2 separate regions of the Homo sapiens genome follow, and region 1 is linked to region 2. Evidence: fine-mapped expression QTL. A gene starts in region 2. The other region holds a variant in brackets. All regions are shown on one strand. Distances are from middle to middle.

Region 1 (2,914 bases), 93 kb after region 2:
GCCCAGTGAATACTGGTTAAATTGACTAGAGGCTCTTGATTTTTCAGCATGTGACTGAGAAATCGCCACACTCATATTTGAGCAAGTGCATCTGTCACATGCAACCAGGTCTTTACAACTACCACTGTCCATGTTACAATATTCTACCATACATACAGGGCAATAAGCTTGCCTGGGGATTTTTTGGTGTCCAGTAATTTTAAGTAGGAGTTACATTAGATGTAGTGTTTAGATGTAGATTACTTAAGCTTCCCAACTGCCAACTCTTGATCAACTTTAAAGGGAAAGAAATAAAAGAAGTGCCGACCCTGCCTCCCACGTCCCCCGCAAGTCCACTGCCTCATCATTCTGGTCTCCTTTTGTGCCCTGTACCCTCCCATTCTTTCCACCAAGCTCCTTTTCTCAACGCTTTCTCACTTGTGGTGTCCTTCTCTCTCCTCTTCATAGTGCAGAGTCCAACTGTATTTCAAGTCCACACTCAAGTTCAAGACTTCCACTTCCACGAGGCCTTAGAATGATTTGTGCTGATGAATCTTTACGTCTGCCTCACACGTGTTGCTAGTCCTAGTGCCTTGCCTACTGCCTAGCACTTAATGGCTCTGGCTGTACTGGGTACATTTCCCCTGATCTCGTGTTCTGGCCTGTACCACTGTCCTGAGACCACCTTTCCTGCATCTGTCATGACTCTGGTCCCACCTGTGCTAGCCCCAGGCCCCTGCTCCTATTGTTCAACCCCGTCCCTGGGAGCACCTTCACACCACTGTCTTTACCCCCTACCCATGAAGGCGATTCCAACCTTTAGTCCTGAGACATCCAGGAATACCTGTTGGACAGCCCACTTGGGTGTCCCACTATCACCTCCCGTTCAACATAACTAAAATTCATTCAACTATTACCTGTTGAGTTACTTTTAAAGCCAGGATCTGTTCTAGTCACTGGTGAGCAAGCCATGTAAAAGTCCTCACCCCAAGGGTTCATCAATGGATGAAGCGATGAACAAAATACAGTGGAATACTATTCATCCTTGAGAGGGAGGAAATTCTGACACATGCTACAACACAGATGAACCTTGAGGACATTATGCTAAGTGGAATAAACCAGTCCCAAAAAGACAAATACTATATAATTCCACTTACATGCAGTTTTAAGAGTAGCCAAATTCATAAAGACAGAAAATAGAATGGTGGTTGCCAGGGGCTGTGGGGAGAAGAAAAGGCAGTTGAATGGGCACAGAGTTCAGTTACGTAAGATGAATAGAGTCCTGGAGACAGATGGTGGTGAGGGTTGCACAACACCACGAAGGAACTTAATACAACTGAATTGTACAATTACAAATGGGTAAGATGATGAATTTTATGCTATGTGTTTTTTTAGCACAATAAAAAAATGTTAAGTCCTTGCCTTCTATGCACTTTTCTGTATGTTATGCTTCAATTAAAATGAAAAAGATTTTGTCATCATGGAATTTATATTCTAGAGTCAGTATCTCAGTCATCATCCAAGCAGTTTCCTTCAAATTCCCATCACCTGTACCGCCAGTCTCCAGGCCTGTGCAGTCCTCCTG[G/C]AATTCCTCCTTTTGCCCCATATCCAAGTGCTCTCCATCATTCCTCTCTAAGGCTTGCACCTCAGTGCTTCCTCCTTCCGAGAACCACAATTCCCATCACCTCTTCATTTTTGATAGAAAAGACGAGGAAGTGGGAAAAACTCTACAGGGCCTGATTCCAGCGTTGGCTCTACCACTTGCTCAATAACCTCTCATTTAAACTTTGATTTCCTCACTCACCAAATGAAGAGTTTGACAAGACATTCATGAAGGCTCCTTCTGGCTCCGTACCAGGATAAGTCTCCGGTTCACCCTCCCCAGCCTGCCCTGAGGTCTGGTGTATTCCTCTCAGGCACTCTGAGCAGCCTGAGAAGAAAGGCCTCATTCAGGAGGGGAGCCCAGCCCGGGCGACAGCTCCCTCCAGGAGCTCCTTGGCTCTCTCGCCAGCCAGCCTGAACTTTTACTGCTTGTAACCTTGTGACTTTGGATTACCTGACCTTGAATCCTGCCAGCCCTGCACTCCTGCTGGGACCTCTTCTGACCTGACTGCCTGTAACTGGGACAGCCTCGCCTGCTGACACTGGACCCTATTCTGCTACTACAAACTGGGCTGCCTTGTGGCTGTACAACCAGGATGCTGCTAGCCAAACTGTGAATTCTCCCTGGGCCATGACCATGGCCCCGACCATGGCCCTGCCTTGGCCCTGGTTCCTGTAGTGTCCTCTGAGCTCATCCATCTGCTACGACAGGGTCCGCAATCTGCCTGTGATTGATTCATTCACTCCAAAATGTTCACTATGACACTTATTCCAAGACAGGCACTGCTCCAGGTAAGAGATACATGAGGATGAAACACAACTGCTTCCAATGTCAACATATCCCATTGCCAGGGCAAATTTTCCCACTTAATGAAGACCTATGTTAACTTACCACTGTCAAATTCTTTCATGTAACAGGTATTTACCATGTGCAATTACTATGTGCCAGCCACTAATCCAGCACTATAATAAAACAGCAGTTTAGGGAAATGCAACTTTCTATGTGGTACAATGGTTAAGAGTATGGCCTCTGCAACTGGAATCTCAGTTGTGTGACCCTGGGCAATTATAAGATTTCTCTGAGTCTCAGTTTCCTCACTCGAAAATGGGAATAATAATAGCACTTAACTGATAAGCTTATATGAGGAATAAATGAGCTAGGCCATGTGAAGTGCTTAGAACACTATATGGCACACAGTAAACACTTGGATATTAGCAGTTTTTATTTTTATATAACCCCAAAGATGCCAGCACTTAATATGCCAGAAACTTCAAGAGTCCCTGCTCCAGCCTGCATAACCAGTATCCCAAGAGTACCTTTGTAGATGAGTAG
Region 2 (2,914 bases):
AATCTTATCAACCATTGTTAATTTTGCTGTATTCCTAGTTTCTTTTTATACATATCAATATGGTACTTTTGTTTTAATAAAAGGACTGCCAAAAGGCACATGCCAGTTTGGACTCTGCTTTTTCCACTTACAATGATATCATAGTTTCTCATATTTGGTATTCTTTTGCAATATTTGCTGCATAGAATTCCATCACACAAAGGTAACTGCCAGAAATTCTTTATTACTTTTGCTAGACACTTAGGGTTTACATTTTTTCAAAAATTAATCACATCAGAGTTTTGATCACATCAGAGCTTTGATCACAGCTCTGATGATTTCTCTGGGAACTGAGAGCCTAACACAAGTCATGTCCACTTTAAGACTTTTAACATACTGAAAAGTTATGTTACAGAGTGCTGGTCCCCCTGCAACACGTTCACTCACATTGGCTGACGTTTTAATTCTTTGCCAATCTGAGGGGAAGAAATGTCAACTCTTTGTTTGCTCTTTTAATGTCAGTCATGTCCTTTTCCTTTTACCGGTCATTCCGGTTTACTCACAATCCTACAAATCAATCCTGCTCATTCTTAATTTTCCAGTATTGTTCCTCAGATTGTTTCACCAGAAAAGTTCTCCCCCTTATCCACTCTTCACCTAACAATTTCTACCCATCCGAATCCTTCTGCATTTATTGCTTCCAGGAATTTGGCACTTAGGACACCCTTGTCCTTACATTGTTCATGCATGTATATTTCGTCTTCAATAAAAAATTTAGTTGCTCAAGGGCAAGGGCCCCATAGAGTCTCAATATTCTAATTGCCTGGTGTTGCTTAATAAATTAGATTCGGAAGGGTCCCCTCCAGGGAGGGGAGCAAAGGGCAAATTACCTTAGGGGCTGGGAGTGCAGAAGCCAAACCTTTGAGATTGTGAAAACAAGACGGCCCCGAGACGATCCAGTAGCAGGCATTCAAGCAAGAAAAACTCAAATATTGTTCCCAATAATGCCTGACTAATGCCAAATACCAAGTAAGGGCCCAGGCAGTCCTGACAGCCTGCAGTGCCCCAGGATAAAACTAACCCTGAGGGGTGCTAGCCCACGGTGACCCCCTGTCTAGACTCTGGATCTCTATTTTTAGGTCGAAGTGCTTTATTCTTGACTCCCGAATTCCCGGAAACTATTACCAAAGCAGCTTAGTTTTCTCTCCACCCTGCCTGGGTCACAAATATGACGGCGAGCCAGTCCTTTCCCGCAGGACGCCTCAGGCTTCCGGGATGGTAGGCCAAGGGCTTAGCAAGAAAAAAGGCGGCCTCGGGGAACCTGTTCTGTTAGGTTCCGCCAGGGCCTCCCCCTGACCTCTCGAAGGCCAAGGGCTGCCCATGAACGCCGAGGCTCCGCCCCGCGGCCCGCCGATTGGCCCCAGCCGCCCTGGTGACTCGACGCACTTCCGCCCCGGGCGCGGCTCGGGCCACGCCCACCTGTCCTGCAGCACTGGATGCTTTGTGAGTTGGGGATTGTTGCGTCCCATATCTGGACCCAGAAGGGACTTCCCTGCTCGGCTGGCTCTCGGTTTCTCTGCTTTCCTCCGGAGAAATAACAGCGTCTTCCGCGCCGCGCATGGAGCCTCCCGGCCGCCGCGAGTGTCCCTTTCCTTCCTGGCGCTTTCCTGGGTTGCTTCTGGCGGCCATGGTGTTGCTGCTGTACTCCTTCTCCGGTAGGACCCCGGGGCGGGTTCGCGCGTCCGCGGCGAGACTAGAGCTCTCCTCAGTCGGGCAAGAGTCGCGGGGCGGGGCTCACAGCAGGCCGTGCCTGTTTGGGGACAGGGTTCTCTGAGGGGTGCAGTGCTCAGATCCCGGGGGTATGTGGCGGGGAATGCGGGGACCACGCAGAGCCCGAGGTGAAGCTTGTTTGGTGGCGTCGTGTGCGCGGCCAGCATTTACGCAGGATCTGGCTGCGTCCCTAAAAAAAGCGTGAATCGTGTTTTCGGGATTGAGCCAGTCGGCCAGGGGAGCGCGGACTGGGCGCCCTAGGTGAGGGCTTGTTCTGGAGTGCACAGGTGCGTGGGAGTGTTGCTAGGGCCCGTGCTGTGTCCGTGGTGAGAGTTTGCCCTGTGTTCCCTTGGTGCCTTGGTGAGTGGGGTGTTCATTAGGGCTTGGACAGTACCCGCGGTAAGGGTTGCAGTGCGTCTGCTGTGCCCCATGTGCTGGGCTGGGCGAGCAGGGGCCTGGCCAGGTGTTGCTGGGAGCGTGCTGTGCGTAAGTGGCCTGTGTGCAGAGTTCACTGTGGGCAAGACAGCTCAACTGTTTGCTTTGAATGGAGTGAGCGCGGACTCTGGGGCTAGGGAGGGCATGTTGAGTGAGAGCAGGCTCTCGGTGCCTGGGGTTAGAGAGGTGGTAAGGGCGCGCCATGCTTTTTGTGCCTTCTGTGAACAGTCTCCGTGTTACCTGAGCTCCTATTAGTTTGTAAATGGCTGCTTTTTTGGGGGGTGGGTGGGCCATCGAGTCTTCTTCCTGTTCCCAACCAATATAGATAGTATCTGATTCCATTGCCTAATGGCTTTTTGACATTGTTTTCCTTCTTTTCATTACTTTGAGTCATATTTGAGAGATGTGAAACAACCTAAAAAACAATGGTAGCCAAACCTAGTGAGAAATTAGTATCCTAACAAAGGAAGGCAGATAATGTTAATCTTGTTTTCCCCTGCAGCTCATAAGCTAAAGCTTAAGGCCTATCCCACTAAATTTATTTTGTATTTCATTGAATGGAATCAATACTTTTAAAAATGCATGCTAGGCCAGGCGCAGTGGCTCACGCCTGTGATCCCAGCGCTTTGGGAGGCCCAGGCGGGGTGATTGCCTGTGCCCAGGAGTTCAAGATCAACCTGGGCAACATGGCAAAACCTTGTCTCTACAAAAAAATACAAAAATTAGCTGG

Alleles and levels. Alleles are on the strand shown, and positions count from the first base shown. SD is a standard deviation of normalised expression in the study named.
For the expression in B cells of the gene that starts at base 1,439 in region 2, G is the high allele of the variant in region 1 and C is the other (large effect, 0.91 SD a copy in Schmiedel 2018).

What was found. PIP is the estimated chance that this variant, and not a neighbour inherited with it, causes the effect. A credible set is the group of variants that fine-mapping cannot tell apart.
Region 1: its variant is the best candidate, but not a certain one, in a credible set for the expression of CD46 in B cells (Schmiedel 2018, PIP 0.51).

The regions. Positions count from the first base shown.
Region 1 is chr1:207,843,310-207,846,223 of GRCh38, forward strand. No RefSeq gene overlaps it. Among named protein-coding and RNA genes, the nearest start is that of MIR29B2CHG, 22 kb to the left of the region's middle. The variant G/C (reference allele first, on the strand shown) is at 1,565.
Region 2 is chr1:207,750,616-207,753,529 of GRCh38, forward strand. It overlaps CD46 (CD46 molecule), which reads left to right and starts at 1,439. Exons shown (of 13, transcript NM_172351.3): 1 at 1,439-1,694. The coding sequence starts at 1,598. RefSeq lists silencers at 1,280-1,389, 1,969-2,326 and an enhancer at 1,490-1,699.